2 linked regions of the Homo sapiens genome follow. The protein of the gene in region 1 purifies or fractionates together with the protein of each later gene. This does not show direct contact. Each region holds a gene or a part of one and is shown on either strand. Other genes may lie near its edges.

Region 1 (4,007 bases):
TTTCTCCTTTCCCTTTCTCCCTTTCTCCTTTCCCTTTCTCCTTTCTCCTTTCTCCTTTCTCCTTTCTCTTTCTCCCTTTCTCCTTTCCCTTTCTCCTTTCTCCTTTCCCTTTCTCCTTTCTCCTTTCTCCTTTCTCCTTTCCCTTTCTCCTTTCTCCCTTTCTCCTTTCTCCCTTTCTCCTTTCTCCCTTTCTCCTTTCTCCCTTTCTCCTTTCCCTTTCTCCTTTCTCCTTTCTCCTTTCTCCTTTCTCCTTTCCCTTTCTCCTTTCTCCTTTCTCCTTTCCCTTTCTCCTTTCTCCCTTTCTCCTTTCTCCCTTTCTCCTTTCTCCCTTTCTCCTTTCTCCCTTTCTCCTTTCCCTTTCTCCTTTCTCCCTTTCTCCTTTCTCCTTTCTCCTTTCCCTTTCTCCTTTCTCCTTTCCCTTTCTCCTTTCTCCTTTCTCCTTTCTCCTTTCCCTTTCTCCTTTCTCCCTTTCTCCTTTCTCCCTTTCTCCTTTCTCCCTTTCTCCTTTCTCCCTTTCTCCTTTCCCTTTCTCCTTTCTCCTTTCTCCTTTCTCCTTTCTCCCTTCTCCCTTCTCCCTTCTCCCTTCTCCCTTCTCCCTTCTCCCTTCTCCCTTCTCCCTTCTCCTTTCTCCTTTCTCCTTTCTCCTTTCTCCTTTCTCCTTTCTCCTTTCTCCCTTCTCCCTTCTCCCTTCTCCTTTCCCTTTCTCCTTTCCCTTTCTCCTTTCTCCTTTCTCCTTTCTCCTTTCTCCTTTCTCCTTTCCCTTTCTCCTTTCTCCTTTCTCCTTTCCCTTTCTCCTTTCCCTTTCTCCTTTCCCTTTCTCCTTTCTCCTTTCTCCTTTCTCCTTTCTCCTTTCTCCTTTCTCCTTTCTCCTTTCTCCTTTCTCCCTTCTCCCTTCTCCCTTCTCCCTTCTCCCTTCTCCCTTCTCCCTTCTCCCTTCTCCCTTCTCCTTTCTCCTTTCCCTTTCTCCTTTCTCCTTTCCCTTTCTCCCTTTCTCCCTTTCTCCTTTCTCCTTTCTCTTTCTCCCTTTCTCCTTTCTCCTTTCTCCTTTCTCCTTTCTCCTTTCCCTTTCCCTTTCCCTGCCCATCTTCCTATCTCCCTGTCTCCTCCATGTCCCCTCTCCCCGTCCGTCTCCCCCTGTCCGTGTCCCCCGTCCGTGTCCCCCGTGTCTTCTCCCCATGTCCCCTCTGTCCTGTCCATCGTCACTCCTTTTGTTTCCTCCCCCCCATCCACTGTCACCGACTCGTGTCCCCTTTCCCCCACAGGGTACCGTGAGGGTTTTCTCTGGAAGCGTGGCCGGGACAACGGGCAGTTTTTGAGCCGGAAGTTTGTGCTGACAGAACGAGAGGGTGCTCTGAAGTATTTCAACAGAAATGATGTGAGTCACAGACGGGGGTGGGGTGGGGGCCTGTCCCAGGGCGGCATCCCGGCCTCCCACACTGGGGCCTGTGGTGGCCGCGTCCATCCGCAGCTGCCCTCCCTGCTGCCCCCCCCGATGGGGACGCTCCAGGAGAACCGGCCTGTGTTGGGCTGAGCCTCTGTGTGCCGGACCCAGCGTCCCCCAGGGTGGGGCAGCTGAGGCTTTCCAGGAGCCTGGGCGGCCGGGCGGGGCCCCCTGAACTCAGGCCCAGCCGTGGGAGAGGGAGAACCTAGTCACTGGGCCCCTCTGGAGCCAGCCAGGACCCCAGAAAGCCCCTAGTTTTCCTGGAGGTACCCTGGGGAGACTGGACTGGGACAGGACAAACACATTGGCAAGAACAGTGGGGTCTTCACAAGGTGGCCCCAGACCCATGGGCTGATGGTCAGAAGCACCCGCCCTGAGCCGTGGCGGGCACTGGCTGGAGGTGGGCTGGTGGCTGGGGCCTGCCCCTGTGGGAGCTGCCGTGCCGTGTGGGGCCCGGGGCTGCCCCCGGGGAGGGAGGTGCAGTGTCTGATGTCAAGTGCCACCTGCACAGTGTCGTTGAGGTCCCCATCACTCCTGGGAGGGAGGTGCTGTTACCTTCTGCTTACAGACCGGGAGGCCAAGGCTCAGAGCGCTTAAGTAACTTGCCCAAAGCCACACAGCACAGCAGGTGCGCCGCCAGCACCCACAGGGTCTGCCCTTCCTGCTCCCTTGAGCTTGGACGACGGCCCCTGTGAGGTGCTTAGACCCCACCCCTTCTCAGGCCAAGGAGCCCAAGGCCGTGATGAAGATCGAGCACCTGAACGCCACCTTCCAGCCGGCCAAGATCGGCCACCCCCACGGCCTGCAGGTCACCTACCTGAAGGACAACAGCACCCGTAACATCTTCATCTACCATGAGGACGGGAAGGTGGGTGCTGGCGAGCACTCGGGCCCGGGTGGCACAGGAGGGTGGGCCCTCAGGCCCGGGTGGCGCAGGAAGGTGGGTGCTTGGACGGTACGGGAGGGTAGGCACTTGAGCTAGGCGGCATGAGAAGGCGGGAAGTCGGGCTGGGCAGCGTGGGAAGGCGGGTGCTTGGACGTGTGGGAGTGTGGGCACTGGCGCCGGGCAGCATGGGAAGACAGGTGCAGGAAGGCAGCTTCCCAGGGCCGGGCTGCCCAGGAGCCGGATCACCACGCTGTCTCTGGGGCCACCCAGCTTGGCCCTGTCAGTGGGGGCTGCCAGCTCGGGCTAGAGGATCCACCGCCCCCACAATGCCCAGAGGGGACCTCGGGGGGAACTGGGGTCCTACGGGGAGGAGATGTGGACGGTAGCCGGCTCTGGGGTGGTTTGGGTAGGGTTCCTTTGGCTGCCCTTGGTGTGGCGGCGGGGAGGGTGGGTGTACCCCGCATCTCTGGAGGGCTTGGGGGGAACCCAGGTAAAACCCCCACAAAAGCTATCCTTTTGTCTTTGGGCCAGGCTGCAGGGGGCGCAGCGGTGGGCCCAGCCTCTTTGTTACTTAGGTTCTTGTTTCTATGTTTATCACACGTCTGTGTGCACACGGTCTAAAGCGCTATATCGTTCCTAAATCTTGAGAAACAGAAGTTTGAGGTCCCTCCTAACCCCCGTTGGGAATTGGTCCCCATATCCAAAAATAAGCTGCCGGTGTCGCTGCAGATTTACCCACTTTAGGCACCATCTGACAACTTCCCACGTGGAAGTAGAGGTTCCAGCTCTTTCCATCCCCTCCCACGTGCCCGTCCCCTGCCTGCCGTGCTCCGCTGGCATCTGACCCTGGGTTTGTTAGGGGGCCGAGTCGGGTGCAGCCCCTGGCCTCAGAGCACGCTGTGATCGCTCTTCCCACAGTAAGCGGCTGTGTTCCTTGCCGCAGTTGACCATGTGTTGCCGCAGACTCTCCGCAGACTGTTGTCTCTGGAGGCAGTCGGGCACCAGGAGCCTGCGACTCCCACGGCCTGGAGATCTCGCTCCTGCAGCCTCATCTGGTTCCTGGGTGGAGCCCTGCTGCCCGGGTCCTACGTCTTTCTCGTTTACTTATTCCTCTTGGTAGAAGTGATGTGCCTGGAGGGAAAGGGGTCACCTGGCACCTTGGACTGTTCTACCTCCTGCCTGGCTTAGACTGTGGCTAGATATAGAATTCTAGGTTGGAATTAATTTTCCTGCTAATTCTGAAGGCTTTGCACCACGGATTCCTCCATCCTAGTACGTTTGTCCCGCGGTTTTGAAATTCTCCAATGCTGTGCGTGTGTTGGCAAGGGTCCCTCGTCTTTTCATGTGCTGGGTACAGGCCCAGGGTGGCCCTTCCAGTCCAGTTACTGGTTTCCATGAGGTCAGGGATTGCTTTCTTATCTAATGATTTCCTCCCTCCACTTTCCCTGTTCTCATTTTCTGAAACTCCTGTTATTGGTGCTCTTAAACTGGTTCATTTTTCTTCTACTTTCTGGGAAATTTCTTCAACTTTGTCTCCAACACTGTGTTGAGGGTTTTGTTTCTGCTGTCATGCATTTAGTTTTTCAGAGAGCCTTTGGTTCTTGGAGTATTTATTTTTCTTTCTTTCTTTTCTTTCTTTTTTTTTTTTTGAGGCAGAGTTTCGCCCTTGTCACCCAGGCT
Region 2 (2,431 bases), on another chromosome or scaffold:
TGAGGTGGGTCACGGGCTCTTCTGGAAACACTTTACACTGCTGGAATCACACAACAACTATAAGACATTGTAAGGAACTAGGGCTTGTTGTGGGTTCAAGGCTGTATAGAATGAATACATAAGAATGAGTATATGTGTACGTGTATAAACAACCACAGTAAACTGGCTGAACTCTTCTGGAAAACATGGAACCTTGTACATGAGCCTCATAAATGTTTTTAGCTTTTGGTCCAATGACTCTACTACTTCTAAGAGTTTGTACTAAGAACTCCACAAAAAGTATAAATAAGTAGTAATATAACAATATCCACTACAGGGGTAAGCTGGACATAATGAAAACATCTAACCATTTGGTTAGAATTAAGTAAATCAGAATATAGTTGATGGACTACTATGTAGCCATTTAAGATACATGCTTTTGAAAATTAAAGAAACAGGGAAATGATTATAATACTGTTAAGTAAAGTAACAAAATAAAACACCATATGTAAACCTCTGGGTTTGTGAAATAATTTGTTTTATAAACATTCCTGAGTTTTCAACCATACATTCTTTTTACAATACGACAAACAAAACAATGAAAGATATTCAAAACAAGGTTCCAAGGTTGGCCCAACTTGATTGTTTGGGTACTTGTTTTTTTAGTAACTCTGTAACTTTTTTAAAGGAAGCTTTTAATGAAGATACACCACTGAGTCTTGCTTTAAGACCAAAAATATCCAAACATAGTATCACATTATATATATCTCATAAGAAAAGCTATTCTATCAGGTAACAAAAATGAAGCTTCCCCCTCACCTAGCAGTTCATCTGGAATGCATCTTGAAAAGATCAATGGCCTGTTGGACTCAAAGAAGCCATCCCCAAAAAAATTGTATAAAAAGATTTATTGAAATTTATCAATGACAAACAGACATAAAACTCAAAGTTTGGCTCTTCTGAGGGGCAGGAGAAAAACTGGTGCAGATGTTCTTTTATACAGATGAAACATGGGTTCAGAAATTACACGTCACTTCTAAAGCAACCAGAAGAGGGACACGAAAGCAAACCTGTACATTCACTAGGAATTTGCAGTCATTTCAGATTTCCACTAGGTAAGAAAATACAATTTTGCGTTAGTTTTTCCGTGCTCGGGTGTATGAAAAAAAAAACCCAGCCGACATGCAGCAACGTCTCCAGCGCTTAGGTCCGTAAAAATGTTCTAAGCACAGAAGTACATGTGGAAGAATTCTCTCATCATTTTTTGTAAAACAAAGCGTTCTAATATTTTACAGAACAAGATAGGACAGTTTTTTTTTTCTTTTAAAGAAGTTGAAGTTTGAAGGTGTGTTTCTTCTAATTTTAATTACCAAATCCATTTTCCTTGTAACTTAACACAACAAGCCTGCGGTTTTCAGCTCTCTGGCTCATAAGCTCAAGAGTAACATCAGAGTCCTCTTTGTAGAGCGAAGCCCACCACCATCTGTGAAGGGGGAAAAGGGATGAGAGATGGGGAATGTCCCCAGACCAGTGCCAAAATACGCCTTTAGGTTGCTATTTACAAACCAGGGCGTTGGATGCCTCTAGCAGGCCTGAGAAAAGCAGGTATCATCATGTGAACCAAAGCAAAAGATATGGCTGGTGCTCAGCCCCTCCTGGGCATTGAGTAACCAAACTGAGACCAGCCACAGCCTTCCAACCAACCCAAGAGACTTGGGAAATACCAGGAAACGTAAGAGAACTCCAAACCATCCTCTTTGAGAGTCAGGAACAAATGCTCACTTAGTGTGTACTTAGCTATCGCATTTACAGGGACAAAAACCGGACACAAAGAAAAAGTAGGGGAAAAAAATAAAGAGTGGCAGTAAAAATAGTATTTTATTCCACCCCCACCCGCCATCCCTCCCCCCGCAACCCCCAGTACACTCTTCCCCTCTCGTTCCCACAGCAACGTTACAATCAGAAAAAAATAAGTTTCAGGGGGCAGGATTGGAGGGGGGGGGGAGAGGGGATATGGGTAAAAACAGTCAAATCACAATAGGAATTTTTCAAAATAGGTTATTCCACTTAGTCATCATCTTCTCCCTCATCTTCAGGTTCTCGTTTTCGCTTCTGACCCCTTTCTTCTTCTGGAAAAGTAAGAAAGCGGCATTTAGATTAGTTATTAATCCCACCTCTTTAACTCAACCCACCCAGTGAGAAGTCAGGGGACCCATGACTAGCAAGCTGTGCCATCCTTGGAAACCGAGGCAAGACATCTGCACAGCTGGAAGGGGAATCTGAGGCCTCTGACAGGAGTGTCCTGCCCACTGCCAGGGGCCTCTGAGTCTAAGCAATCTAAGGCCAAAGTGAAAGGGCCAGGCTGCTACCAGCTGAGAGTAAAAAGGCTGCCATACCACCAAGCTCTTCTTCATCTTCCTCGTCATCTACCTCTCCATCGTTATAACCTTCT

The links.
Region 2: the proteins of ADAP1 (region 1) and ANP32A purify together in Homo sapiens (co-purification; one study listed by BioGRID). This does not show direct contact.

The regions. Positions count from the first base shown.
Region 1 is NC_000007.14:902,428-906,434, reverse strand, and holds part of ADAP1 (arf-GAP with dual PH domain-containing protein 1), read left to right. Parts: intron 1-1,262; coding exon 1,263-1,375; intron 1,376-2,162; coding exon 2,163-2,309; intron 2,310-4,007. UniProt on the Homo sapiens protein: GTPase-activating protein for the ADP ribosylation factor family. Binds phosphatidylinositol 3,4,5-trisphosphate (PtdInsP3) and inositol 1,3,4,5-tetrakisphosphate (InsP4). Regulates the incorporation of CD63 and CD9 into multivesicular bodies.
Region 2 is NC_000015.10:68,778,035-68,780,465, forward strand, and holds the end of ANP32A (acidic leucine-rich nuclear phosphoprotein 32 family member A), read right to left. Parts: coding exon 2,376-2,431; intron 2,109-2,375; coding exon 2,047-2,108; 3' UTR 501-2,046; downstream 1-500. UniProt on the Homo sapiens protein: Multifunctional protein that is involved in the regulation of many processes including tumor suppression, apoptosis, cell cycle progression or transcription. Promotes apoptosis by favouring the activation of caspase-9/CASP9 and allowing apoptosome formation.